Linked DNA regions of Homo sapiens. The protein of the gene in region 5 purifies or fractionates together with the protein of the main gene of each other region. This does not show direct contact. Each region holds a gene or a part of one and is shown on either strand. Other genes may lie near its edges.

What was found.
Region 1: the proteins of DECR2 (region 5) and WRAP53 purify together in Homo sapiens (co-immunoprecipitation; one large-scale study listed by IntAct). This does not show direct contact.
Region 2: the proteins of DECR2 (region 5) and WDTC1 purify together in Homo sapiens (affinity purification with mass spectrometry; one large-scale study listed by BioGRID and IntAct). This does not show direct contact.
Region 3: the proteins of DECR2 (region 5) and GPR107 purify together in Homo sapiens (affinity purification with mass spectrometry; one large-scale study listed by BioGRID and IntAct). This does not show direct contact.
Region 4: the proteins of DECR2 (region 5) and RGS3 purify together in Homo sapiens (co-immunoprecipitation; one large-scale study listed by IntAct). This does not show direct contact.

Annotation. Positions count from the first base shown.
Region 1 is NC_000017.11:7,690,301-7,696,330, forward strand, and holds part of WRAP53 (telomerase Cajal body protein 1), read left to right. Parts: intron 1-6,030. UniProt on the Homo sapiens protein: RNA chaperone that plays a key role in telomere maintenance and RNA localization to Cajal bodies. Specifically recognizes and binds the Cajal body box (CAB box) present in both small Cajal body RNAs (scaRNAs) and telomerase RNA template component (TERC).
Region 2 is NC_000001.11:27,236,489-27,242,518, forward strand, and holds part of WDTC1 (WD and tetratricopeptide repeats protein 1), read left to right. Parts: intron 1-6,030. UniProt on the Homo sapiens protein: May function as a substrate receptor for CUL4-DDB1 E3 ubiquitin-protein ligase complex.
Region 3 is NC_000009.12:130,100,886-130,106,915, reverse strand, and holds part of GPR107 (protein GPR107 isoform 3 precursor), read right to left. Parts: intron 5,811-6,030; coding exon 5,693-5,810; intron 2,497-5,692; coding exon 2,366-2,496; intron 1-2,365. UniProt on the Homo sapiens protein: Has been proposed to act as a receptor for neuronostatin, a peptide derived from the somatostatin/SST precursor.
Region 4 is NC_000009.12:113,594,839-113,600,124, reverse strand, and holds the end of RGS3 (regulator of G-protein signaling 3), read right to left. Parts: intron 5,207-5,286; coding exon 5,145-5,206; intron 4,527-5,144; coding exon 4,360-4,526; intron 3,358-4,359; coding exon 3,172-3,357; 3' UTR 2,387-3,171; downstream 1-2,386. UniProt on the Homo sapiens protein: Down-regulates signaling from heterotrimeric G-proteins by increasing the GTPase activity of the alpha subunits, thereby driving them into their inactive GDP-bound form.
Region 5 is NC_000016.10:405,855-411,884, reverse strand, and holds part of DECR2 (peroxisomal 2,4-dienoyl-CoA reductase [(3E)-enoyl-CoA-producing]), read right to left. Parts: intron 5,540-6,030; coding exon 5,488-5,539; intron 4,461-5,487; coding exon 4,325-4,460; intron 1,643-4,324; coding exon 1,518-1,642; intron 1,195-1,517; coding exon 1,101-1,194; intron 914-1,100; coding exon 809-913; intron 525-808; coding exon 307-524; intron 1-306.

The DNA.
Region 1 (6,030 bases), on a different chromosome or scaffold from region 5:
AAAGTGGTGGACAAGACAGATGAAGGGCTGGTTTGCTTTCTGTGTGGGAGACAGACAACAAACATGTAAACCAGCAAGCATCAGGACCAAGATGATGATAAATGCTCTGAAGGAAATACACAGAATGAAGAGAGACTAACTAGAGGAAAGCACATTGCATAAAATGGTCAGGAAGGAGCTCTCTGAAAAGGAGGCATTTGAGCTAAGACCTGAAGGAGGATAAGGGATCAGTCATGTGAAGGCTTCTGGAAAGAGCTTTCCAGGAACTGGCAATGATACTATAAACACCCAGAACTGGGAAATAGCTTTGTGCGTTAAAAGACCAGAAAGGCCCTGCATGGTGGCTCACGCCTGTAATCCCAGCTACTCAGGAGGCCGAGGTGTGCAGATCACTTGAGGCCAGGAGTTCGAGACCAGCCTGGCCAATATGGCAAAACCCCATCGCTACTAAAAATACCAAAATTAGACGCATGTGGTGGCACGCGCCTGTAATCCCAGCTACTTGTGTGGCTGAGGCAGGAGAATCTCTTAAACTCAGGAGGTGGAGGCTGCAGTCAGACAAAATTGTACCACTGCACTCCAGCCTGGGCGACAGAGTGAGACTCCATCTCAAAAAACAACAAAACAGACTGGGCTCAGTGGCTCACACCTGTAATCCCAGCACTTTGGGAGGCTGAGGTGGGCAGATCACCTGAGGTCAAGAGTTTGAGACCAGCCTGGCCAACATGGCAAAACCTCATCTCTACAAAAATACAAAAATTAGCTGGGTGTGATGGTGGGTGCCTGTAATCCCAGCTACTTGAGAGGCTGAAGCAGAAGAATCATTTGAACCCAGGAGATGGAGGTTGCAGTGAGCCAAGATCATGTCACTGCACTCCAGCCTGGGTGACAGAGTGAGACTCCATCCCAAAACAAACAAACAAACAAACAAACAAACAAACAAACACAAAACAAAAAACCCAGAATGCTGGTATAGCCAGACTGAGGCAAGTGAGGGGGACAGAGGGGTGAGGACAGAGAAGAGCAGCCACGTCGTGTTGGTTCTTATGGGTAAGGCATTTGGAGTTTATTTGGGAAGTCATGAGAGAGGTGTTTTTTTTTTTTTTTTGAGACGAGTCTTGCTCTGTCGCCCAGGCTGGAGTGCAATGGCGTGATCTCGGCTCACTGCAACCTCTGCCTCCTGGATTCAAGCGATTCTCCTGCCTCAGCCTCCCGAGTAGCTGGGATTACAGGCACCCGCCACCATGCCCAGCTAATTTTTGTATTTTTTTAAATAGAGACGGGGTTTTACCATATTGGCCAGGATGGTCTCGTACTCCTGACATTTGATCCGCCGGTCTCGGCCTCCCAAAGTGCTGGGATTATAGGCATGAGCCACCGCGCCTGGCTTAATTTTTGTATTTTTAGTAGAGACAGGTTTTGCCACGTTGGCCTGGCTGGTCTCAAACTCCTGACCTCAGGTGATCCACCTGCCTCAGCCTTCCAAAGTGCTAGGATTACAGGCGTGAGCCACCATGCCAGGCCATGAGAGAGGTTTTTTTTGTTTGTTTGTTTGAGACAGAGTCTTGCTCTGTTGTCCAGGCTGGAGTGCAGTGGCACCATCTCAGCTCACCGCAACCTCCGCCTCCCAGGTTTAAGTGATTCTCCTGCCTCAACCTTCCGAGTAGCTGGGATTACAGGCATGTGCCACCACACCCGGCTAATTTTTTTGTATTTTTTTAGTAGAGATGGGGGGTTCATCATATTGGCCAGGCTGGTCTCGAACTCCTGACCTTGTGATCTGCCCACCTTGGCCTCCCAAAGTGCTGGGATTACAGGCATGAGCCACTGCGCCCGGCCAAGAGAGTTTTAAAACAGAAGAGTGAATGGTTTATGGGTGGGCAAGAGTGAAATCCAGGGCCAGGCACGGTGGCTCACGCCTGTAATCCCAACACTTTGGGAGGCTGAGATGGGTGGATCACCTGAGGTGAAGAGTTTTAGACCAGCCTGGCCAACATGGTAAAACCCTGTCTCTACTCAAATACAAAAATTAGTTGGGGCTGGGTGCGGTGGCTGACTCCTGTAATCCCAGCACTTTGGGAGGCTGAGGCAGGTGGATCACCTGAGGTCAGGAGTTCGAGACCAGCCTGGCCAACATGATGAAACCCCATCTCTATTAAAAATACAAAAAATTAGCTGGGCGTGGTGGCGGGCGCCTGTAATCCCAGCTACTCTGGAGTCTGAGGCAGGAGAATTACTTGAACCAAGGAGATGGAGGTTGCAGTGAGCCAGGATTGCACCACTGCACTCCAGTCCAGGCAACAGTGTAAGACTCCGTCTCAAAAAAAAAAAAAAAAAAAAAAGATTGGCTATAGTTTTCTCCCACCCATCCTAATCAGGTTCTGCCTCCATCGCTTCCTGAAAGTGCTCTTGTCAAGGTCACTAATGTCCTCTTGGGTCATTCTCCTTTTTTTTTTTTTTTTTTTTTTTTGAGACAGAGTCTCGCTCTGTCACCCAGCTGGAGTGCAGTGGCGCCATCTCAGCTCACTGCAAGCTCTGCCTCCCGGGATCACGCCATTCTCCTGCCTCAGCCTCTCCCGAGTAGCTGGGACTACAGGCGCCCGCCACCACGCCTGGCTAATTTTTTGTATTTTTAGTAGAGACGGGGTTTCACCATGGTCTCGATCTCCTGACCTCGTGATCCTCCTGCCTCGGCCTCCCAAAGTGCTGGGATTACAAGCATGAGCCACCGCGCCCAGCCCCTCTTGGGTCATTCTCTAAATTCGCCTCACTGCATCTCTTAGCAGCATGAGTCACTGTCTCCACCTCCCTGCGCTGGAGCACTCAGGCACTCAGGGCTCTGCTGGGCCTTCTCCTCCTCCATCAGCACTCTTTCTTTTTTTTCTTTTTTTTGAGACGGAGTTTCAAAAAATCAGACCCACCAAGGCATGTGGCAGTTGTGTTGCTCTTTGCTCGGTACCCGCTAGAGGTCTGTTGCCATTAATTTGAAATGAGACCAGTTAGTGTGACTGTGCATCTTTCCTGGCAAGTTAAATGACTATAGTTTCTCTGTTTGTAAAATGGGGATGATTATAATAGCACCTGCCTCACAGAGTTGTGAGAATTAAAATAATCAGTAATGAATTAAAGCACTTAAGGCCGGGTGCGGTGGCTCACGCCTATAATCCCAGCACTTTGGGGGGCCGAGGCAGGTGGATCGCCTGAGGTCAGGAATTCAAGACCGACCTGGCCAACATAGTGAAACCCTGTCTTTACTAAAAATACAAAAATTAGCCGGGCTTAGTGGCGGGCGCCTGTAATCCCAGCTACTTGGGAGGTTTGAGGCAGGAGAATTGCTTGAATCCAGGAGGCGAAGGTTGCAGTGAGCTGATCGCACCACTGCACTCCAGCCTGGGCAAGAGAGCAAGACTTAGTCTCAAAAAAAAATAATAAAATTAAAAAAAAGTACTTAAAACAGCACCTAGCATATAGTAAGTGTTCGGTAAACACTAGTAGTCACTGGTATCAGTTGTGTGCAAGCCAAGAATAGGAGGATGGTATGGTTGAGGTTTACCAGGAGAGAAAGACAAGGGTATCCTGAGAGTGTCTTCAAGAGTGTGCATGCCATGGTGGACTAGAATCTACAGTGGGTAAGGAACTGGACTGTAAATAAGTTTTTGATGAAGCTGAATAAATTGTCATGGTAGAAATAGCAGAGCAGGGTCAGGCCTGGTGGCTCACGCCTGTAATCCCGACACTTTGGGAGGCCGAGGCGGGTGGATCACCTAAGGTCAGGAGTTCGAGACCAGCCTGGCCAATATGGTGAAACCCCGTCTCTACTAAAAAAGATACAAAGTTAGCCAGGCATGGTCGTGATTATGATATTAATGATTATAATATTAAAACATTTTAAAAAATATATCTTGCAATACAGATAGTCAATTTGTTTTCTTTTTTTCTTTCTTTTTTTTTTTTTTTTTTTGAGACAGAGTCTCGCTCTGTGGCCCAGGCTGGAGAGCAGTGGTGTGATCTTGCCTCACTGCAACCTCTGTTTCCCGGTTCAAGCGATTCTCCTGCCTCAGCTTCCTGAGTAGCTGGGATTACAGGCACGCACCACCGCACCCGGCTAATTTTTGTATTTTTAGTAGAGATGGGGTTTCGCCAAGTTGGCCAGGCTGGTCTCAAACTCCCGACCTCAAGTGATCCACCCATTTCCGCCTCCTAAAGTGCTGGGATTACAGGCGTGAGCCACTGCTCCTGGCCAGTCAGTTTGTTTTCAAAAGATTTTTGTGGCTGGTGTGGTGGCTCATGCCTATAATCCCAGCACTTTGGGAGACCAAGGTGGGAGGAATGCTTGAGCCCAGGAGTTTGAGACCAGCCTTGGTAACACAGCCAGATCCTGTCTCTATCAAAAAAGTTGGGCCTATGGTCCCAGCTACTTGGGAGGCTGAGGTGGGAGGATCGCTTGAGCCTGCGAGGTTGAGGCTGCCATGACCTTTGATTGCACCATTGTACTCTAGCCTGGGCGACAGAGTGAGACTCTGTCTCAAAACAAACAACCAAAACCTTTTTGTGCTTTTTTTTTTTTTTTTCCTGCTAGTGTACCAGTTCTATCGCAACCTCTCTCATTAGGTATTTTCATTTTTAGTGTCTACAAGCTTAGCATTTGAAATAGATAACTTTTTTTTTTTGAGATGGAGTCTTGCTGTGTCCCCCAGGCTGGAGTGCAGTGGCGCGATCTCAGCTCACTGCAAGCTCCGCCTCCCGGGTTCACGCCATTCTCCTGCCTCAGCCTCTCGAGTAGCTGGGACTACACGCACCCACTGCCACCACGCCAGGCTAATTTTTTGTATTTTTAGTACAGTCGGGGTTTCACCATGTTAGCCAGGATGGTCTCGATCTCCTGACCTCGTGATCCGCCCGCCTTGGCCTCTCAAAGTGCTGGGATTACAGGCGTGAGCCACTGCACCCGGCCTTAAATAGATAAAATTTGTATAGGTCAGAAAATTGGGGAAGGGTGTATTTGGGTATTTCCATATACTTGTGTGTACTGAGTCTTCTTCCCAATATAGTTTCTCGGGTTTTCTCCTTTCTTTTCCACCTTTTCACAGAACTTTCTGCAAGTCTCATTTCCAGCTCCCCAGCGTCTTTCCTGAGTACTTGCCCTGCCCCGTGGGTCTTGCAGGAAGCCTTTACTCCTCGTCTTGCCCTCTCCAGGAGACACTTTGCATCCTCTGTACCCTTTATCTCTCAGGGTGGGGACGGGGAATGTCCTCATTCCCAAATGCTGTAGCCACACAATTGCTCTTTCGTCTTTGTGAAACTTTTCCCTTGAGGCTTATGCTGATTCTCTCTCCCGCTGACGACGTTGGCACTGTACAGCCTTCCGGTGCTCTCCTGTTCGCCCGCCATTTTGGTGACCTCAGGTATCCAAGCCAAAAGCCAGGGTCTCTCTCATCCTTTAATCTTTAATCTCCCTGTTCCTAACCCCTCACATCCAATTACTTCCCAAATCCCATCAAGTCTGCCTAATCTTCCTAATCCACCCACATCTGTCCCTCCCACTGCCTCTACTTTAATTCAAGGTCCTATTATTTTGGGCCTTATGTTGCTGAAACAGTCTCCTGCCTCCTTTTGCTCATTAAAACCGTATTTGTTGACTCTGCTTATTCTGCACCACGTGTTGGGGAAGCAGTGGTGAGAGCGAGGCAGATGTGATTCCCTCCTTCTCTGATAGGTATGACGGAAGGGGAGTGAGGAGCACCAGGGGCTATAGGAAAGAGGAACAGGGGCGCCTTGCTTAGCTGGAGGGGTTAGGGAAGCGTTCCCAGAGGAAGAAGCATCTAAGAGACCTGAAGGATGACTAGGATTCAGCCAGGAGGAGTCGTTGGGGGAGATGAAGGAAGAATATTCCAGACTTGGAGCCTAGGACATGTGAAAGCCAGTGGGTTGAAAGTGTGGCGAGTTGGCACTTTATGGGACCTGAGAGTCAAAATGGCGGGACTCAGAGATTTTTTTTTTTTTTTTTTTTTTTTTTGAAATGGAGTCTTG
Region 2 (6,030 bases), on a different chromosome or scaffold from region 5:
CTGCCGAATAATTGAGCAGTAGCCCATATTTCTGCCTGGGACACCTTCATTGAGGGTCACGAGGGAAAGAGAGAACACGTGTAAATATTATGATGATGATGTTAACAACTATTTACCAGTTTCATACAATTGACAGTTTTTTTTAGCCGGGAGGAGTTCAGTATTGACTCATTGGGCATCTTATGTAGGGTGTTTTTGCACACCTAGACTTTAGGATCTGGAAAGACAACTGAAAATCTTGAAGCCCACTGCCAAACATTTGTGGATCTTGGGCCAACTGCTAAGGAAGATCTAGACTATGACTTGGTCTTTAATTATTTTTATTTTTTTCTCCTTTATGTATGTATGTATTTATTTATTTATTTTTTGAGATGGAGTCTTGCTCTGTTGCCCAGGCTGAAGTGCAGTGGCGCGATCTCAGCTCACTGCAACCTCAGCCTCCTGGGTTCAAGCAATTCTCTGCTTCAGCCTCCCAAGTAGCTGGGATTGCAGGTGCCTGCCACCATGCCCAGCTAATTTTTGTATTTTTAGTAGAGATGGGGTTTCACCATCTTGGCCAGGCTGGTCTTGAACTCCTGACCTCGTGATCCACCGACCTCGGCCTCCCAGAGTGCTGGGATTACAGGTGTGAGCCACCGCACCTGGCCTCTCCTTTTATTTTTATTTTTTTGAGATGGGGTCTCACTCTGTTGCCTGGGCTGGTCTCAAACTCCTGAGCTCAAGGGATTCTCGTACCTCTGCCTTCCTAGTAGCTGGGACTACAGACACGGCCTCCGTGACCACTCTCTTCTCTCTTTTTAAAAATTAAGGAATGTTGCTGACATGTGCAGTTCTGAGTCTCAGAGAGGAAGTCAAACAGAACATGTAATCTGGTGATACTTGTGTTTTCTTTGGGTCACTGGTTTAGTTATCTATTCTGTTTCCTTTCTTCTTTCCACCTCACCTTTCCAGATGCTCCACTGTATCTTTAGGCTGCCATTGCAGATTGCTGGGCCCACAAAACCCTTAGGTTGTACTTTCTTAGCTGTCATCTCTTGAAAAGCCAAAGTTCTGGCAGTTGCTATTAGAAACCAGTTCCTGGCTGAGCGCGGTGGCTCACGCCTGTAATCCCAGCACTTTGGGAGGCTGAGGTGGGCAGATCACGAGGTCAGGAGATTGAGACCATCCTGGCTAACACGGTGAAACCCCATCTCTACTAAAAATACAAAAAAAATTAGCCGGGCATGGTGGCACGCGCCTGTAGTCCCAGCTACTCAGGAGGGATTTTCCTACTAAGGCAGGAAAATCGCTTGAACCCAGGAGGTGGAGGTTGCGGTGAGCTGTGATCGTGCCATTGCACTCCAGCCTGGGCAACAAAAGTGAAACTCCATCTCAAAAAAAAAAAAAAGAAAAGAAAAGAAAAAAAAGAAAGAAGCCAGTTCCTTGGTGTAGTTAATTTACTTTGAGAGGTATTTGCCAGTTGGGATATGTCCTAAAAAGTGACTGACATTTTATTCAGGGCCTGGTATATCTTGAGCTCAGTGCTAGCTAGTATTTTTACTTTATCCAGTGTAACCTTCATGACTGTCCTGTGAGGTGAGAATCATTTTCCCTATTATACCTATGAAGAAACAGATTCAGAGAAATTAAGTTATTTGCTTAAGGTCACACAGCAAGTAAGAGGAAGGACTGGAATTCAAACCCAGGTCTCTCTGCTCTGTGATATTGAATTGCCTCTGGGACTGTGACACATGAAGAAGAACTGAAAAGACCAAGGCTAAGAGCCTGGGGGAACATGATACCTCATTCAAATACTTGAAGATTGTCATGGGGAAAGGAAACTGGATGTTCTCTGTGATTCTAGAAGGCATCTCAGGATTAAATGACATAATTTCCAAGAAGGTAGACTTTGGTTTGATAGGAGATAATGTAGCTTTCTAAAAACAAAATGGGCTGCCTTGTGAGGGAGTGAGTTACCCATCATTGCAGATATTCAAGCAGAGAGTTTGCCACATCTTTTTTTTTTCTTTGAGACAGAGTCTTACTTCGTCATCCAGGCTGGAGTGCAGTGGCATGATCTCAGCTCACTGCAACCTCTGCCTCCCAGGTTCAAGTGATTCCCATGCCTCACTTCATCTTCCAGGCTGGAGTGCAGTGGCATGATCTCGGCTCACTGCAACCTCTGCCTCCCAGGTTCAAGTGATTCTCATGCCTCAGCCTCCCAAGTAGCTGGAATTATAGGCATGTACCACCACGCCCATCTAATTTTTGTATTTTTGTAGAGATGGGGTTTCACCATGTTGACCAGACTGGTCTTGAACTCCTGACCTCAGGTGATCCGCCCGCCTCAGCCTCCCAAAGTGCTGGGATTACAGGTGTGAGACACCGCGCCCAGCCCCGGCTAATTTTTTTGTATTTTTATTAGAGACAGGGTTTTGCCATGTTGCCCAGGCTGGTCTTGAACTCCTGAGTTCCACCTGCCTCGGTCTCCCAAAGTGCTAGGATTACAGGCATGAGCCACCGCTCCTGGCTTTTTTTTTTTTTTTTTTTTTATGAGACAGGGTAGATGGGAAGACAGGTGTGTGCCATCACGCCTGGCTAATTTTTTAATTTTTTCATAGAGATGGGGTTTCACTATGTTGCTCAGGCTGGTCTCAAACTCCTGGGCTCAAGCAGTCTGCCTACCTCAGCCTCCCAAAGTCCTGGGAATACAGGTGTGAGCCACCATGCCCAGCCTCCCTGTCTGTTTGATCTGTAAAACCTAACATGGCTTGGCACGGTGGCTCACACCTGTAATCCCAGCACTTTGGGAGGCCTAGGTGGGTGGATTGCTTGAGCCCAGGAGTTTGAGACCAGCCTGAGCAACATAGTGAAACCCAGTCTCTACAAAAAGAAAATTTAAAAATTAGCCAGGTGTGGTAGCATGTGCCTGTATTCCCATCTACCCAGGAATCTGAGGCGGGGGCATCACTTGAGTGCAGGAGGCAGAGGTTGCAGTGAGCCAAGACTGCGCTACTGAACTCCAGCATGGGCAACAGAGACCCTGTCTCAAAAAAAAAAAAAAAAAAAAAAAGCCAGTTGTGCAGTGGCTCATGCCTGTAATCCTAGCACTTTGGGAAGCTGATGTGGGCAGAGCTCAGGAGTTGGAGGCCAGCCTGGGCAACATGGCAAACCTGTCTCTACTAAAAATACAAAAAATTAGCCAGCCGTGGTGGTGCACACCTGTAATCCCAGCTACTTGGGAGGCTGAGTCATGAGAATTGCTTGAACCTGGGACGCAGAGGTTGCAGTGAGCCAAGATCGTGTGCACTCCAGCCTGGGGGACAGAGTGAGACTCTGTCTCAAAAAAAAAAAAAAAACCAAAAAAACCCAAAAAAACTAACATGTATTGAATATTTAGTATATACCAGGCACTTGCTAGATACTTTTTCTTTCTTTTTTTAAGACAGAGTTTTGCTCTTATTGCCCAGGCTGGAGTGCACACGATCTCTGCTCACTGCAACCTCCGCCTCCTAGGTTCAAGCAATTCTCCTGCCTCAGCCTTCTGAGTAGCTGAGATTATAGGTGCGCGCCACCATGCCTGGATAATTTTTGTATTTTTTTAGTAGAGATGGGGTTTCACCATGTTGGCCAAGCTGGTCTCGAATTCCTGACCTCAGGTGATCCACTCACCTTGGCCCCCCAAAGTGCTGGGATTACAGGCATGAGCCACCAGGCCCAGCTCTACTTTTTCTATAATGTCTCTTATAATCTTCAGAGCTCCCCTGGAAGGAAGGTATTACCATTATCCCCACTTTACAAATGAGAAACTGAGACTCTAGACTAAAGTTAAGGAATATGCTGGAGGTTACACAACTAGTAGTGTAGGGCTGATATTTGAACCCATGTCTCCTCCTTAGCTCTGTGACCTAGGGCCAATCATGTATCCTCTCAGAGCTATAGTTTCACCTATAAAATGAGGCTTATTGTAGTACCTACTTTTTAGTGGGTTTTTGAGGACTAAATGATGAAATATATCCTTTTTACTAGACCTCACTGATTGCCCTCAAGAGCCAGGGCTTGGATGTAAAGGAATACCACTTAGTTGGCTTCTTCTGGGTAAATTCAGGCCTATGTGTAACTCTGAGAGTTCTAGGGCCCATTCTTTGAGCTATTAAGTAATAGCTGCTGACTCCTTGAAGGGCTTTGTGGCATTGAAGACTAATACCTTAAAAACTTTTAAGCCTGGGCTGGGCGCAGTGGCTCATGCCTGTAATCCCAGAACTTTGGGAGGCTGAGGTGGGCGGATCACAAGGTCAGGAGTTTGAGACCAGCCTGGCCAAGGTGGTGAAACCCTGTCTCTACTAAAAATACAAAAATTAGCCTGGCGTGGTGGCGGGTGTCTGTAGTCCCAGCTACTCAGGAGGCTGCGGCAGGAGAATCGCATGAACTCAGAAGGTGGAGGTTGCAGTGAGTTGAGATCGCAACACTGTACTCCAGCCTGGGTGACAGTGAGACTCCATCTCAAAAAAAAAAAACAAAAAAACTTTAAGCCTGAATAAGGGGAGGATGCAGTCAAAAGGCCAGAGTGTATAGGAGGCAGTGTCAGAGGCCCTGTGCAAAGAAAATTCTCAGCTACTACTGCAGAGCCAGATTTGAGGGTCACCGTTGGCATTTTTGTATTTATTATCTTCTTTTAGGATACAAGGTCACAACTGCTAGAGCTGTAACAGAGCTCAGTGCCAAGAATAATGACCCTTAATCCTCCGTATAGCCATCTGGGGAGGTATTAACCCCATTTTCTTGGAGATGGGGTGGAGAACAGGATCAGACCTTGCCCAGGGAGCTCTCCAGAGGCTGTTGAGGGCAGTGTTTGGATCAGGACTTTTGTACAATTTTGTCCTTATTCATGACCCCCCAAATTCTATAAAACTGCTTATCCTTGAACCTCTTAGGGGGCCTTCCTGAGAATGGGAGCTAGGCATTCATGGTCAGGGAGCTTCATAGTTGAGGCCTGAGTGTTTGGGTGCTGATGGCCTACCTGGTTCCCTTTTGAGTTACACATCTGGATATAACACTACTGTCACTGAGTTAGAAAGGAAACATTTCTAACTTGAATGGTTTAGTTTTCCTTGACCTTGCAGCTAGTAGTAGAGTTACAGGATGAAACTCCAGAGCCTTCTCTACAAGAGATATTTTGAATTGTGGCAGGATTTGTCAGGATGCAAGTTAAAGACTGCAGATGCTTTTAAATAGTGAGAGAGTATAGCATTATCAAAATATGCTCCCTTTTCTCTGTTTCCTTCCACTATCTTAAGGTAATTGTGAGGCCTAAGAGCAGACAGGAAAATTAGCTATGATCACTGGAAAACAAAGTTCTGAAAACATCCAGAAAAAATTTTCACAAAGCTCAAACAAGTGGCTGGGTGTGATGTCTCACACTGTTTTTTTTTGTTTTTTTTTTTTTGAGAGTCTCGCTGTGTCACCCAAGATGGAGTGCAGTGGTGCAATCTTGGCTCACTGCAGCCTCAGGCTCCTGGGTTCAAGCGATTCTCTTGCCTCAGCCTCCTGAGTAGCTAGGATTACAGGCGTGTGCCATCACGCCTGGCTAATTTTTGTATTTTTAGTAGAGACGGGGTTTTACCATGTTGGCCAGGCTGGTCTCCAACTCCTGACCTCCAGTGATCCTCCTGCCTTGGCCTCCCAAAGTGTTGGGATTACGGGGATGAGCCACCGTGCCTGGCCAGATGGTTCACACTTGTAACCCTAGCACTTTGGGAGGGTGAGATGGGAGGATTGTTTGAGGCCTGGACTTCAAGAACAGCCTGGGCAAAATGATGAGACCCCCATCTCTACAAAAAATAAAAATAAAAGTAGCCAGGCATGGTGATTTGCACCTGTAATCCTAGCTACTCAAGAGGCTGAGGCAGGAGGATCCCTTAAGCCTAGGAGTTCAAAGTTGCAGTAAACTGTGATAGTGCTACATTCCATTCCAGCCTGGGGAACAGAGCTAGACCCTGTCTCTTTTTTTTTTGAGACGGAGACGGAGTTTCGCTCCTGTCGCCCAGGCTG
Region 3 (6,030 bases), on a different chromosome or scaffold from region 5:
GTGAGAGGTGGAGGCACCATGAAAAGCCACCAACAGAGAGACTTCCCTGAGGGCTGAACAGGGCACAGGCAGACAGGCTGTGTGAGGGAAGGCGGCTGTGGTCTGACACTGTCACTCACTCTTGTCAGCAAATCAATTACTCTTCCTAAATCCTCCGTAATTTGCCCACCTGTGAGAGGGGCTATCTGCTTGAGAACTGAATGGAACACCACACGAAAGCTAACCAGTACACTGCTGGCCCTGAAGCAATGCTGGCTGAATCGGGATATTTACAAGTATTATTATTATTATTATTATTTATTTATTTATTTATTTATTTTGAGACAGAGTCTTGTTCTGTCGCCAGGCTGGAGTGCAGTGGCATGATCTTGGCTCACTGCAACCTCCGCCTCCTGGGTTCAAGCAATTCTCCTGCCTCAGCCTCCCGAGTAGCTGGGACTACAGGCACATGCTACCACGCCCAGCTAATTTTTATATTTTTAGTTAAGATGGGGTTTTGCCATGTTGGCCAGGATGGTCTCGATCTCTTGACCTCGTGATCCGCCCACCTCAGCCTCCCAAAGTGCTGGGATTACAGGCGTGAACCACCGCGCCCAGCCTAAAAATATTATTAATCTTGAATCACCTCTCCAGTACTTACTGACTTTTTTCATTTTACAGTAATTTTTAGGATATTTACCTTAAGGAATTTTGCCATTTGGAATCTGCTCATTAGTGTTGTAATTAACAAGGGGCAGGAAATGGCTGCTTACACCTCGACAGCTTGTTGGGGTTCCTTATATTTGACTATTCTGATAGTGGCATGTGTAAAAGTAGGGTGTGAACCTCTGTTCCCTAATGAGGTGCTCTTTTCGATCTGGAAACAATGCTGGACATCCTATGTTAGATACCCGAGTGACTAATTCCTGTGCAGGACGGCAGGAGGCTGCAGTGAGGAGGAAGAGTCATTCATATTCCACTGGGTGCGGTGGCTCATGCCTATAATCCCAGCACTTTGGGAGGCTGAGGTGGGAAGATCACTTGAACCCAGGAGTTTGAGACCAGCCTGGGCAACATGGCAAAACCCTGTCTACAAAAAATTGGCTGGGTATGGTAGTGTGTGCCTGTGGTCCCAGCTACCCAGGAGGCTGAGGTGGGAGCATCATTCATACTCTCTTCTATGCTGGTAGCTGTCTGCTGAACTGATACGAGATCATGTGTGATGTATGATGGAATGAGGGTGAAGAGTGAATCTAACTGGCTGGAATGAGAAGTACTCTCCATTTGCACCATGTTATAAATAATGAGAGTAACTGACAAACCCCAGGATCCTCAAAAATATTAATTTACTGGATGGGGCATTGCAATAAGAAGCACCTCAGCCAGCTGCGGTGACTCATGCCTATAATCCCAGCACTTTGGGAGGACAAGGCAAGTGGATCACCGGAGGTCAGGAGTTTGAGACCAGCCTGGCCAAAATGGCGAAACCCTGTCTCTACTAAAAATACAAAAAAAATTAGCCAGGCATGGTGACACGCACCTGTAATCCCAGCTACTCAGGAGGCTGAGGCAGGAGAATCACTTGAACCCAGGAGGCAGAGGTTGCAGTGGGCCGAGATTGAGCCATTGCACTCCACCCTGGGCAACAAGAGCGAAACTCCATCTCGGGTTAAAAAAAAAAAAAAGAAGCACTTGTAATGGAAGGCCGGGGTGAATCTATTTTCTTTAAAATTTATTTCAAAAGAATTGCATTCCAATAGCCATGGAATTATATCACTAAGGGTAAAGTGTTTTATTGCTGCTAGCCTTCTGAATTTCTACCACTCTGCATGTGATTTAATAAGGATATTTTCTCATCAACCACTGACTTGACACTAACACTTCTTTACACAGACCCAATGCACAATCTGTGCATCTAAACACTGCCATTTCCAGGAATGGAGCAATCCATTCTGAAAACATCAAAAATGTTTGTGTGCTGAGAACTATCACTAGTTTTATGTTAATGAACTTCCTCATTTTCCACCTAAGTTGGCAAGAACTGGCTGTTTATGGGATTTCTCCAACTCCCTACCACCACCACAAATTCAGGCTGCTACTTTAAGTTACTACCAAGTTCTCATTTCCCAATTCCTCTCTATTGTCTTAGAACTCTGTTAAATGCCAGCTCATGGTGACGGATTAGCTCTGCCAGAATACCCCGAGTAACTGGAAAAAGACACAGGGTTCTGCCCCTGGAGGCTGATTCAGGTCAGTCTGGGACTCAGAAAGCTGTACTTTTAAACACACGTCCCATGTGACTGAGATCAGTTTGGGAATGGCCAGTTCAGCTATTGGGCTTGACAGCCAAGCTGTCATGTGGCCTCCCTCCCTGTGAGCTACTCACCACACCACTGGGAAGAGGATGGCACCACAACACAACAGGTCGACCAGAAATAGAGAGTCCTTCCACAAGCCATATTCAGTCGTGCCCTCCTCGGTGGACTCTATGATGATGTAGGCTACATTTGCCAGGACCTACAGACATGAGAAGTTGCTGAGGCCCCAAAGCATGGGTGGACTGTTATGATGCTAGCAGCCCCAATGTGGGGTGTACACCTTGGCCTCCAGACCCACGATCTGCGACCACAGCATTCTTTCCAGTCCCACGTGCTCTTCCAGAACTCTGCCACTCCGCTATCAAGGAGAGTCTCTATGCCACCCCCCTGAATCTGCACAGGCCGTAATTGCTCTAATACAGTAAGATGGAAGTACTGCTGTGTGATTTCCAAGGTAGATAAAGCTTCCACCCAGCTCTCTTGGGACCTTTGGAGCCCTAAGCCTTCTTGTAAGAAGTCTGGCTACCCTGAAACTACCCTGCTGTACAGACCATGCAGAGATGGAAAGGCCCCCCCAGGAGCCCCGGCTGTCCCAGTCCCCACCTGAGCAAGCTTCTCAGCCCAGAAGACAGATGCGAGTGGAGACTTCAAGATGCTCCCAGCCATGGTGTGACTATGACCACAAGACCCAAGTCAGACCTACCCAGCTAGCCACTCTTGAATTCCTAACCCACAGAAACTGAGAGAGAGAATGACGGGTTATTGTCGTTTTAAGTCGCTGAGTTTTGGGGTGATTTGTTATGCAGCAGTAGATAACAGGGACACTTTGCTTTTCAGGTACCCCAAACCCAGTGGAGTCACTCAGGTGCTGGACTGCTGGATAGGTGGCACTTAACACCCTATTTAGCCACAATGCCCATACTTTTCAGGCCATGGTGCTCAGTGACAATAACTCATCTAAGTGCCAGACAATGGAACTGTGTTTTCAGAGACCAGAGGGTGAGCATGGCTGATTCCAGCCCTACAGCCTCATATACTCAGGCCCACTATTAAGCTCTGTACTCAGGCCCGTTATTAGGCTCTTAGCATAAGTCTTTATAAAAAGTCTTTCCACTGGCTAAACTGAGATGCCACAGAGCATAAGGGAAATTTACCACTTATAATACATCCTTTTGAAGATTACCACTGGGAATGGATGCAGAGGTTATCATTCCACCTATATACCCCATGAGAAGTCCCTGGTCCCAAATCTCTGCCTGACTTGCTGTAAAAGGTAATCCTCCACACTTTGCATGTAAAATCTGTAGTGCTATTATTTAGGAAGTCTCTAAGTTTAATTTCTCTTTCTATACAGGACTTAGAATCAAATTATCCGAAATTTCATTTAAAACTAATGCAAAAATTATCTGAAATTTCAGCCTCTCCAATGACCCCCAGCTTCTGGGTCCTTCCCTGTCCCACACTGCTCGTGAAGCCCTGTCTATCCAAAACACTAGCATCTGTGGCTCCATCTAAAAAGACAAAGTAGGGCTGGGTGCGGTGGCTCATACCCATAATCCCAGAAATTTGGGGAGCCAAGGCAGAAGGATTGCTTGAGCCCAGGAGTTTGACACCAGCCTGGGCAAAATAGTGAGACACGGCCTCTAATTAAAAAAAAAAAATTAAAAATTAGTCAGGTGTGATGGTGTACGTCTGTGGTCTCAGCTACTCGGGAGACTGAGGCAGGAGGATCGCCTGAGCCCAGGAGTTTAGGGCTGCAGTGAGCCATGATCACCACTGTACTCCAGCCCGGGCGACAGAGTGAGACCCTGTCTAAAAGTAAGAGGACAAAGTAGAAAACAAAGGCTTTCACATCTTAAATTCAAAATTCCATTTTGTCCTTAATTCACACACTGCATGAGAGACAGAATGTTCCCAGTGTTGAACAACGTGCCAAGAGTGTTCCTGAAACACCATTTTGCAGGGACATCATCTACTCCTTACTTAGAAACTTTCTGTCACTGCCCATGGCCAAAAGGAAGCAGTTTTAACTTTTCAGGCTGACATTTAAGGCCCTCCCAGACTAGTTCTATTGTCTAAATACTCATGACTTTCTTAATTTGTTAAATGTCCTTATCTTCTCAGACTGACATTCCATGGAACTCTGTGTGTCTGTCTTTCAGGGAAGCCCAGGACGGGCTTCCTGGAAGGCTATGCCCCACGACAGCCTGGTTCAGGCTGGTGGGGGGAGACTCTAGAGGGATGAGGGACTCTACTAAAGGGAAGAGGCACACGCAGCCGGGTGACAACCCAGTCTCCGTCATTCACAACTCCGAGACCTCGGCAGGCTGTAGGACTCAGTCTGGCTGAAGAAGTGACCACGGTGGCTCGACAGCCGAAAGACCGGCACAGTCCCTCAGCATGTTTTGCTTAGCAGACAGCAGGGTCATGTGTATTTACTGCCTCTGTCACATTCCTTTCCTTCAACACCCAGGCCAGCCCTATCTCTGTCACAAAGCCCTCCTTGATCCTTCCAACTTGAGTGCTTATTCTCTCCTTGGAAACACAGAGCAACTGGCCTGTCCCATTCATTTGATGTCAACACATGTTCCTCATTATTGAACGTAAGGGTGGATGAGGTCTGTTAGAACTCCGAGAGGAGCTCTGCTGCAAACTCTGCCAGAGTTGGGACGGCTGATCTGGGTGCCTCAGGAGTTGTCCCCTTCCACCCCCAACCTTCCACATTTACTTTGTGCTCCAAAATGTGAGAAAAGTTCACAGGGACAACTCTGTCAAACAGACGCTGTCTGGTCAAGCAGAGCAGGGTAGCTGTGCATCCCTGCTAAAACCTCTCTGTTCATTGTAAGTTCTTTACATCCAAGTTCTGCTTCCAGTAAGACAAGGCTCCTCCCGCAAAAGACTCACAGCCTTGTAAGGCTGGCCTTGGCCCTCGGCCCCAAACATGGTAAGGATTTAGGAAATGTTTGCCCCTCACGTCTACTACCATATTCTACCTGTGGAAACTCACTGGTGTAGTTCACGGTTTTAAAATACTTTGTTAATAAAATCACTACATCTCTGAGCTTCCTTGCCAAGGGCACCATTTAGTTATGAAGCAAATGATGCAGAAGAGAAAACAGTACTGTGTGTTACTGTGTGTCTCCCTGTCACTGTCAGCAGCTCTCTACTCAAAATCTAGGCCCCCAAAGGCCAGTGGCTGACTGATGCCCAAGCATCTCCCAGTGCAATGACCTGAAGTCTGTTCAGAATTCAGAAAGAGAATCTCAGTCTTCAACCTCCACTAGCAGAAGCTGGGGTTTCAGGGTGAGGTGACTCCCTCTTCCCATACAGGCTTGGAGCTGAGCCCTGCTAAGCGCCAAGAAAGGAAGTGACAAATGGGATGAGGGTTCTTTTACCTGGAGTGGAATGACAATCATGAAGATCTTTTTGTCTTTATCAGAAAGGATGTGCTTAATGAAAGCCCAGCCAGTGCCAATGAGTGCAATGGTGATGAAGAGTAGCGCCCCTTTCAAACTGGAAGAGAAAACAAGGAACAGACACCAGCAGGTCTCTTTAGACTCTCACTGCCAGTTAGATTGCATAGCTCATTCTATGAGTTCACAAGCTTCTTACAAAAGACGGGCAGCCAAATTTAGGAAATCCATCATACATGAGCACCACTTCCTTCAGGGCACACAGTTAGCTCTGCACCCCACAGCCTGGACAGCCAATGGCCGCAGAGAGGCAGGAGTAT
Region 4 (5,286 bases), on a different chromosome or scaffold from region 5:
TCACAGCTCTGTGATCCCACGTTGACCGCCTGGAATTGCCAGAGACTAGAGAGCACTGCTCCTTCCTCTCCTGTGAAAGAAAATGGGAACCAGCCCAAATGACACTGTACAGATGAGGCAACTGAGGCCTAAGCGGGCAGAGAATGTACCCAAGGTCCTCCAGGGAGCCCAGGCAGGGCCCAGGGCAGGGGGACCCAGACGCCTTTCTAGTCTGCCCTCCAGCTGCTCTGCACAGCCAAAGCCACTCGGAGGCCAAGGGAACCAGGGTGTGAGTAATGGAAACCAGGCAGTGGGGCCTTCCGAAATGGGAATTCCATCTGCCTGACTTTGTTCTCCCGGACTTTGGTTTCCATGGCAACTCTGGGAACCAGGAGGTTGGGAAGGTGGAAGAGGGAAGGCCTGGCCCTAAACTGAATCCCTAGAATATAAAGAACTGGAAAGGTGGGTCTCCTTGTGGACCCAGTGGCTCCTCCCAGCAGAAGATGCGAGAGAGGCCAGGTCAGGCAGGGAAGTCCTGGGCTCAGACCCAGTACTGCCTCTACCATTTTGGGGGAGTAGGGAGTAGTATTATAGTCTTCCCTGGGCCCCAGTTTTCCCAGCTGTCAGGTCCCCAAATCTCAGGCCTGGAAAAAACCTGGAAGGTGCCCTTGTTCAGAATTAGAAGCACGACTCTTCCCAGGCCCTTCCAGCCTCTGTGAGACACTGAATCTCTACAGTGGGAAAGCTCTTCACAGTTTATAAAGCCCAATGACACTCATTGCCAGGTCCTGGAGAAAGACCCAGCACCACTCCTGGAGGGGCTCACCCTCTGGTGCCAACATGTATCAAGCACCTACGGTATACCTGGCCCCAGGTTAGGACCTTTCTGCAGAACTGGCTCACTGGCTGTTCATCCCAGCACTGAGAAGACAATAGAATCATCCCCATTTTTGCAGGCTCAGGGATGGGCAGTGACTTGCCAAGGTTACAGAGCAAGTCAGTAGCAAAGACAAGACTCAAACCCAGGATTGCCTGATTCCAAAGCCTTTGGAGACAGAAAAACCCATGCCTGACTCAGTACGGGCTAGTCAAGGAGAGGCCACGGCTGCCGGGGAGCAGAGGGAAGGGGGTTCTCTGCTGACCTAGGCTACTGTTGTTGCACAGAAGATTCTTCCAAATGGGTTTCAAGGGTGAGCAAGCATTAGGGGTCCCATTTGCAAGCGGGGCAGGAAAAGTCAGGTGTGGTCAGAGCGGCAGTCAGACAGCCCACCTCTTCCTCCTGATGAAGCCCTGCTCAGCTTCTGCTCCACACCCAGGCCCTGGCTCTAGTCCCCTGTAACCCTGAAGAGGGCTCAGTCCAACTCCCTGAAGGCCTCCAGAGACCAACAATTCTGATCCTCTCACTGTGCAGAGGGGCCAACAGGGCTGGCCTTGCCCAGGGAGATGAGTAAGGGGAGGCAGGGAGGAGGGAGCTGTACAGCCCCATGTCGTCTGCAGCTCCAAGTCTGCAGGACCCCAGGCAGGGAACAAGATCCAAGGAGACGGGGCCCAGCTCCTCCTGCATCAACTCCATCTAGCTTAATCTAAGACAGCCCTGCTGAGCCAGACCCCACCCTGGGCCATGCCCTGGCCCCTGGGAGGTTATATATGTGGGGTCAGCTTTGCCTTCAGCTTGGCCTGGACTCTGGGCCTCTTCTGCCCACTTCTAGGCAAGTGGCCCAGGTCCTCCCTTGAAGGATGCCCTGGGCCTTTCCTAAACTCGCATCTTCTGTTAGGTAGGAGGGGAAACAAAGGCACAGTGGGGAAAGCCTTACCCAGGGCCACAGAAAGACTCTGTGAGTCCTATCTCCTGTCTCCACAGCTGTTCCTTCTGCCCAGAGGCCTCCATAAGCCCACCACCACCCTTCCTGAGATTCTGGCCCCGTCTACCTTCACCAGCCATCCCTGCACCACGTGAAAGTTCTATTCAAACCTCAGGGTGTGGCGAGGCAGAGAATTGAAGGAACTTGCTGAAAGACATGTGGCCAGCTGGCGATAAGCAAGGACTCCATCCTGTAGCCGGCAGAGCCCAGGCTTTGCAGACAGTCAGACTTGGGCTGAACCCCTGCCACCTGCTGGCTACGTGACCTTCCCTGTCTGTGCTTCCATCTCCTCATCTGTAAAATGGGGATAAGCCCTACCTCCCAGGCTTGGGGAGGAGATGCAGTGACCACTAGGATGAGTGGCACAGTGCCTGGCACAGAGGAAGGCATGGGAGAGCAGCCCTCACCAGTGTATCAGTGTATCGGGCTCCAGGATGGGGGCAGGTGATGGCAAGAGAGCAGTGGCTGAATCAACAGCCCAACGACCAACCCTCCCAGCCCCAGCCACCCTGGGAAGGCTCAAGACCAGGAACACACAAAAAGGGTCAAGAACAAGAAATAACACAGGCCTTTTATTTGCTCCAGAACTTGGCTACTGTGTGGTCTGAGGGTGCCATGCTTTCCCAAAGCCCCCGAGGGACACTCCACCCAGGGGGTGCCAGATCTCTGTGTGTAGCCAGACTGCAGTGTCCCCCCAGGCTGCCTTAGTCCAGAAGGCCAGCTGCCTGCCACCGGTGCCCGGGACGAGCATATCCCCTGAAGCTGGAGAATGGTGTCCACCTTTGCATGGCAGCTTCTCCCAAGGCATTGGCTAAAATATTGCACTTGTAAATCAGGAAAACTGATGAGGCAAGGGTTTCCTATTACAGGACGACGTGCCAAGCATCCAACTACTATTTAAATAAATAAAACTCAAAGTGGGGGTCTGAGCTGCAAGCTCCAATGGCCCTCTAGGAGGGCCCGAGAGCCCAGGCCTGGACCTCCTGCCCCATCAGCCAGTTCTTTAAGGAACTTGGTCAACGCGAAGCCTCCGCGGTCTCCGCAGCAGGGAGCAGCAGCTCCAGATCTGGCTTGGCCAGGGCCCCTGACCTGCCAGGGTCTTGGGCCCCCTCGTACCGGGGCAGTGGGGACCCCACGGGGCCCATCCTTCTACTCCTCCAGTAGCCTGGGCCTCTCTTGGTCCAGGCCTCGCTTCCGTATGTCTATCCGTCTGTCCAGAGACACAGCCTCTGGGGGCTTGCTTGCCCCCTCCGTCACAGGGGGCAGGGAGGCAGGTGGGCAGGGGACCCAGCCCGCCTGGTGTGAACGCTGAGCTCGACTCCAGTGGCCCCTAAAGCGGGGGACTCATCTTCTTCTGGTTAATAAGGTCCAGGTAGAGGTCAGAACGGAGAAAGCGAGGGTACGAGTCCTTTTCCATGAGCCCGAAGATGCGCTTCTGTGCCAGGTCGAAGCAGCCCCGCGTGACGCTCTGCAGGTTGTCCTTGGTGTGCTCCCGCGTGTAGGAGTCCAGGTTGACCTGGGGAGGCAGAGGGGGACATGGTCAGGGCTGCCTGCTGGGGACTGACCCTAGGGCCCATGTGCCTGGAAGGGACCCATCCAGCCTCTCACCTCCAAGCCCCTTTGCCCCACATCTTAAGGTTCATCTGAAGTAGAGACCCTCAGACCAGAGGATTCAAGTCCTGGCTCAGTCATTTCCTGTAGGGCTGGCAGCATTTATAAGGCTGAAAATACCACCCTGAGGGTTAGGCTTCCTGGGTTCAAATCCTAGCAGTGCCACACCTGGGTGTGTGACTTGAAGCAAATTACTTAAGTGCGGTGAGCTTCAGTTGTCTTATCTACCAGCTAGGAATAATAGTACATTCCTCAAAGCGTGAAAACCAAGCAAGATCATCCATATAATGTGCTTTGCGCATAGTGCCTGGCACACAGTAGGCACTCAATAGATGGGAGCAATTATGATTTGTCTCTGTCACTCAGGCTGGAGTGCAGTGGTGCGATCTCGGCTCACTGCAACCTCCGCCTCCCGGGTTCAAGCGATTATCCTGCCTCAGCCTCCCGAGTAGCTGGGACCACAGGCGCCCATCACCACACCTGGCTAATTTTGTAATTTTAGTAGAGATGGGGTTTCGCCCTGTTGGCCAGGCTGGTCTCGAACTCCTGACCTCAAGTGATCCGCCTGGCTCGGCTTCCCAAAGTGCTGGGATTACAGGCATGAGCCACTGTGCCCAGCCTGTCTCTTCGTTTCACAGGTTGTTGTGTGGATTAAACATGAGAACGCATACATAAAGGGCTCAGCACATGCCTGGCATGCGGCAGTGCCTTGGTGGTGGCCATTTTTATTACTAACTGGGATTCTGTTCTTCCCCTGATCCTAGCTTGCATCTTCCCTGCTGGGTACCTGGGCTCATGGAGTCATTCTGGCCTCTCCCCTTCCTGTGCTGCTGGCTGCCACCTTGCAGCTGAAGGGCCACTGGGCCCTGGGGATTGGAGGAGCGGAGGGTCTGCCCTGAGGTCCTACCTCCTTGCATGCCTGGATCGCGATGTATTCAGCAAAGATCTTCTTGGCCTTGGATGCCATCTTGGACTGTGACTTGACCTTCTTGAAGTCCTCACAAGCCAACCAGAACTCCAGATTCTCCTCACTGAACTCAGTGCGAAGGAAGGCTTGGAACACTGCTAACCCGTCTGTGAGGAGAACGGATCCTGGGGTAAGAGGCAAACTCAGCCTCTCCTGCCCTTAAGATGCCTCAGCTTACCCCTACAGGACTTTAAAGATGGGCGTGCTGGGAGCTGAGTACAATGCCCGTCCCCGACAGCCAGGAGCCCTGGGATGTGGCCCCAGCCCTGCCACTGCCTCTTTCAGGGTCTCAGTGGGGTCTCCCCCTCTCTATGCCTCAGTGTCTTCATCTGTGAAATGGGGACTATCGATTCTGTCTCCCGGAGCCCTGGGAGGAGCCGATGGGACCCTGCCCATGAGATGGCAGGCACATTTGGCGCCGTGAAAGCCCTCAGTACGTAGAAATGTTTATTCTTATTCTGGGAATATGGATCTGAGCACACAGGTCCCACGGGCCTCCGGCAGGCAGTGCCAGCTCACATGGACGGGGAGGGGCTGGCAGAAGCTGGCTCCAAGGCCAGACCAAGGGCCTCAGCTTGGGCTCAGCCCCTCCGCAACAGCAAGGACACCCTGACGGCCGAGGAGAGGGAAGGCGGCCTCTCTAGCACCAGCTACACAGGGTCTGGATGGGGGCGAAGGGGAGAGGGAGAGAGGGCACAGGGAGTGGGCAGGCAGGCCCAACTTACATTTGTGAACCAGCAGCTTCTCCAAGGACTCGCCCCACTTGAGGGCTTCCTCTGAGGTGGGCCTGAGGGGTGAGGGAGGAAACACAGTGAGGGCACTGAGAGGCTTGGGAACCTTGGGGGAAGCTGGGCCAGGCGGCCTTTG
Region 5 (6,030 bases):
GGAGTTTCAGAACTTAGTAGCCGGCTGAGGACGGCTTCCCCCTAAAACACCTCGGCTGCCTCGGCCACCCAGCACCTGCCAGAAATGCCGGCAGAGGCCGAGGCCGCTACAGAAGAGCAAGTACACCAGCGCCCGCCTCCTGCTCAGCCCCACTGGGCAGCACCCATGTGTGGGCAGGCTGGCGCAGGGGCCGGGAGGATGGGGACAAAGGAGACGCCAGCCCCGTGGGTCCCGCAGAGACCTGCCCATGCAGTGACCAGCGTCCAAGGACACAGATGACCCCAAGAAGCGGGAGCAGTACCTCACCTAGAGCTTAGCAGAGAAGGATGCGAAATCCGGCAGCCCTTTGACACCGTTTGGGAACGTCAACCATGCCCCGCCATCGGCCACCAGCACGGCCCCCGTCACGTAGGAAGCCAGAGGGCTGGCCAGGTAGAGCACGCTGTGGGCGATCTCGGTCTTGTTCCCCAGCCTCTGCAGCGGGCTGGCAGTGACCTTGGTGCTCAGGCTGGCCTGAGGGCCACCTGGAGGGCAGCAGAAGGCTCAGGCCCCGTGAGCCCCAAGACCCAGCACCCTCCCCTCTCCCCCAGCTCATTCCCTGAGAGGCATCTGGGAACAGCAAGGACACAGTCAGTGTCACCAAGGCCTAGCATGGAGCAGGATCAGGCCAGGCACAGAACATAGTTGCCACCATGGAACCAGCACAGGGCTTTTCAACATACACCCTGCCAAGGTTCTGGAAGCTTCATGGGCACCCTGTGCCCCAGGAGAGGATCTGTGGGAGGCCTGGGCTCCCTGAGAGCCTTACCCAGTCGCCGGAGCCCCTCTGTGCCACTGATGGGGCCAGGGGCGAGGCTGTTGACGCGGATGTTTTGGGGACCCCACTCCACAGCCAAGTGCCGCGTCATCGCGTCTGCACAGAAGAAAGTTGGATATGAAAGGGCCGCTCTGCCCTCTGCGAGGGCGCAGGGCCAAGGCCAGGTCTCGCTGCCTGCAGCTGGGCTCAGCTTCAAGTGGAGACTGCTGGCCTCCTGGGATGGAAGCAGACGGCCCATTGGGGACCCACGTGGGCAAACCTGGGCGGGGGGGGGTGGTCATACCCACAGCGGCCTTGGCGGAGCCTGCATGCACCTGGAGCGCCTGCCCCCGGTTCCCCAGGGTGGCAGTGATGTTCACGATCACCCCTCCGTGGTCCTGCAACACACAAGGCCCGGGGCAGTGAGCGGGCGGGTGTCGGGGGAGGTCACAGGACAGTGAGCGGGTGGCTGTCAGGGGGAGGCCCGGGGCAGGGAGCGGGCGGCCGTCAGGGGGAGGCCCAGGGCAGGGAGCGGGCGGCCGTCATGGGGAGGCCCAGGGCAGGGAGCGGGCGGCCGTCAGGGGGAGGCCCCCGCTGGGAGTACACCCACCCGGAAGAACTTCTCACAGAGCGCACAAGGCACCCACCCGGAAGAACTTCTCACAGAGCGCACGAGGCACCCACCCGGAAGAACTTCTCACAGAGCGCACGAGGCACCCACCCGGAAGAACTTCTCATAGAGCACACGAGACACATTGAAGGTGCCGCTGGTATCGATGTCCATCACGGTCTTGAAGGCGTTGAAGGACAAGGCGCCAGCGGGGCACAGGAAGTTCCCGGCCGCACCTGCAGAATGGGAGACCGCAGGAGCTGCTGGAGCCTGGGGAGAGGGATGCCAAGTGGGTGGTGGCCAGGTGGGCAGAGCGGAGGGTGCAGGAGGGAGCCCAGGTGCCCTGTGGCACAGGGAGGAGACCCATGCCCTAGGATAAATTCCAAAATGACCAGAGCAAGACGGGCGTCCTGGCTGCACTGTGTCCCCGAGAAGAGAAGACATGCTGAAGCCCTGGCTCCGTACCTGCGACTGTGGCCTTGTTTGGAAATGGGGTGGGTTGCAGAGATAATCGAATTACACTGAAGTCACAACGAATTAGGGTGAGCCCTAAATCCAATGACCAGCATCCTTATAACAAGGGAAGAGGACACACAGACACACGCCACGGGAAGACAGTGGCAGACAGTGCAGCGACGGTCTCCGAGCCCGGGAGGGCCAAGGGCTATGGCAGTACCCGAAGCCACGCAGAAGGCAGGAAGAGGCTCTCCCCTGGGGCCTTCAGAGAGCATAGCTCTGCCGACGCCTTCCCCTTGGACGTTCTGGCCTCCAGAACTGGGAGATTATATTTCGGTTGTTTTACCCACACAGGTCGTAGTACTCTGTTAGCCCAGGAAACTAATACACAGGATGTTTTTAAAAGGGAATTTCTGCAGAGTGAAACCAGTGTTGGTTCATCAATTGTAACAAACGCAAGATGTTAACAGGGAAAACTGTAGGTGGGAGTATGGAATTCCATATACTATTAATTATTCTATAAACCTAAAACTGTGATTTAAAAAAAAAAATCGGCCAGGCGTGGTGGCTCACGCCTGTAATCCCAGCACTTTGGGAGGCTGAGGCGGGCGGATCACGAGGTCAGGAGATCGAGACCATCCTGGCTAACATGGTGAAACCCCATCTCTAGTAAAAATACAAAAAGTTAGCCAGGCGTGGTGGCAGGCACCTGTAGTCCCAGCTACTGGGGGACTGAGGCAGGAGAATGGCATGAACCCGGGAGGCGGAGCTTGCAGTGAGCCAAGATTGCGCCACTGCACTCCAGCCTGGGCGACACAGCAAGACTCTCTCAAAAAATAAAAATAAAAATCAATAAAAATAAAAAATAAAGAAATAAAAATAAAAGCTGGGGGCCAGGCGCGGCGGCTCACGCCTGTAATCCCAGCACTTTCGGAAGCCAAGGCGGGCGGATCACCTGAGATCAAGAGTTCGAGACCAGTCTAAACAATATGATGAAACCCCATCTCTATTAAAAATACAAAAATTAGCCAGGTGTGGTAGCGGGCGCCTGTAATCCCAGCTACTTGGGAGGCTGAGACGGGAGAATTGCTTGAACCCGGGAGGCGGAGGGTGCTGTAAGCTGAGATTGTACCATGGTACTCCAGCCTGGGCAACAAGAGCGAAACTCCCTCTAAAAAAAAAAAAAAAGCTAGGCCAGGCTAGCTTCTATTTTATTGATGACTCTTGCTTGTAATCCCAGCATTTTGGGAGGCCAAGGCAGGAAGATTGCTTGAGCCTAGGAGTTTGAGACTGGCCTGAGCAACACACACTAAGACCCTGTCTCTACAAAAAATAAAAAATATAAAAATTAGCCAGGCGTGATGGCACACGTCTGTAGTCCCAGCTCCTCAGGAGGCTGGGGCAGGAGGATGGCTTGAGCCCAGAAGGTGGAGGCTGCAGTAAGCCATGATCACACCAGCCTGGGTGACAGAGTGAGATGCTGTCTAAAAAAAAAAAAAAGGCTATTACTTTTTTTTTTAAAGACGGAATTTCAGGACACAAGGGCACCCGACTCTACCATTGAGCTGTGTTCATGGCGTCCACTTGGGCTGCAGCTGTGCTGACCTGCTGCCACCCAGAGAAGCGGAGTCAGGCCGGAGACAGAGGGCCAGAGACAGAAGGCGGGACACAAAGGCCTGGAGACAGAGGGCCAGAGACAGAGGGCCAGAGACAGAAGCCCGGAGACAGGGGGCCGGAGATGGGGCCGGAGACAGAGGCCCAGAGACAGGGGGCCGGAGACAGAGGCCCGGAGACAGAGGCCCGGAGACAGGGGGCCGGAGACAGGGGGCCGGAGACAGAGGCCCGGAGACAGAGGCCCGGAGACAGGGGGCCGGAGACAGAGGCCCGGAGACAGGGGCCCGGAGACAGAGGTCCGGAGACAGGGGGCTGGAGACAGGGGCCCGGAGACAGGGGCCCGGAGACAGAGGGCCGGAGACAGAGGCCCGGAGACAGGGGCCCGGAGACAGGGGGCCGGAGACAGAGGCCCGGAGACAGGGGCCCGGAGACAGGGGGCCGGAGACAGAGGCCTGGAGACAGGGGCCCGGAGACAGGGGGCCGGAGATGGGGCCGGAGACAGAGGCCCGGAGACAGGGGGCCGGAGATGGGGCCGGAGAGAGACGCCCGGAGACAGAGGCCCAGAGACAGGGGGCCGGAGATGCGGCCGAAGACAGAGGCCCGGAGACAGAGCCCGGAGACAGAGGCCCGGAGACAGGGGCCCGGAGACAGGGGGCCGGAGATGGGGCCGGAGACAGGGGGCCGGAGCCTGAGTCTTGGCCTCAGGTACCTGGATGGGGTGCAGCCCACCCCAGCACAGGCAGCTAGGTTCCCTGGCATGGTCCCCACCCCATGACCAGAGTTCTAGGGCCTCCAAATGGTACCACCAACCTGTGAGAAGCCACCAACCTCACTCAGCACCGACTCACAGTTAATGAGAATGTCGATTCTGCCAAACTCCTTCAGAGCCTGGTCCACGGCGGCCATGACAGCTGGGGGCGCTCGGACGTCCATAGAGAGAGGGAGGCAGCGCCGGCCGGTGGCCCCAGCCAGCTTCCTGGCGGCCTAGAAGCCAGGTAAAGAGGCAGACAGCAGCCCTGCAGCCTCGGCCTGGAGAAAAGGCCTTTGGAATCTGCAGAGGACGATGCTTCCGGGTTCCTCGGGGACCCTGGGTTTGCTGCTGGACCCCACTCTGGGGAAGCACAGCCTGCAAGTGCCCACGACCCCAGTGGATGTTTGTGGGAACCTGCCACGCTCTCCCCCCACCTGCCACCTGTCCTAGAATCCTCCCTCTGCGTCGCCCTCCAGGCCACTGTCACCCATGTCCTGCCCCTGCTGCAGACCAGAGGTGGCACAGGTGAGACTCTCCTCCCAGGTCGAGGGCTCCAGTAGGTGGGACGCACGGACCACCTAAATAACCCAGGTGAGCCCAGAGGTCTTTCTTGGGGCCACATTACCCCCAAACAGGAAGGTCCCTCCCAGAACCCAATAACTAGATTTTTTAAAAAGTCAAAGATGTCTCTGGGAGGCCACTTACACTGAAGCTCCATATTTAGGATAGGTGCAAGTTTTGGTGCCGGCTGGGCACAGTGGTTCACACCTGTAATCCTGGCACTTTGGGAGGCTGAGGTGCCGGCCGGGCACAGTGATTCACACCTGTAATCCTGGCACTTTGGGAGGCTGAGGTGCCGGCCGGGCACAGTGGTTCACACCTGTAATCCTGGCACTTTGGGAGGCTGAGGTGGGCGGATCACCTGAGGTCAGGAATTCGAGACCAGCCTGGTCAACGTGGTGAAAACCCATCTCTACCAAAAAAATGCAAAAATTAGCCAGGCGTGGTGGCGGGCACCTGTAGTCCCAGCTACTCCGGAGGCTGAGGCAGGAGAATCGCTTGATCCTGGGAGGTGGAGGCTGCAGTGAGCCGAGATCGCACCACCACACTTCAGCCTGGGTGACAGAGCGAGACTCCCGTCTCAGAAAAAAAAAGTTTTGGTGCCAACATCCCCATAGCCTCTGGACTCTCCTGGCCCAGGCCCAGCCCCAGCCCCCCCACAGCCACCCGAACAGGGGACCATGGGAGAGGCCCTCTCACCGTCAGCACTCGCGGCAGGCTCCTACTGGCAATCACCGTATGGCAGCCGTGCCTGCAAAACCAGAAGCAGGTGTGAGGGCAGTGTGGGCGAGGGGCACTCCCGGGGCATCTGCCCAGCTCCTGAGCAGGAGTCTCTCAGGCGGAAGTACCAGTCCAGGCTGAAGGCCCAGCTGGCAGAGGGCACAGGGGCGTGAACAGGACTGAGGTACTCTGGAGGGACCTCAGGTGGTGCCCACCCCGGGGTTTCTGGCATGGGACATCCCACCGCACAGGCCTGCGGGTCCTGCCCCAAACACCAGGTACAGAGACAGCTGTGAGCCACAGACGCCCAGCCCACACATCTGCCTGGGGCCTGCTGGGCCCACATTCTCCACCCCCTTCTCCCTGTGGGGCTGGCGTGGAGGACTGTTCTGAAGCGGGGTGCTCCCTGCTCCCCTTCCTGACCACGTGGATGCGAATCCACCACGTTGGCCTCTATGAACCCTGGTTCCAGGAATGCCGCTAGGATTTCCAGCTTATCTACTGTTCTTGCGAAAGAGCACA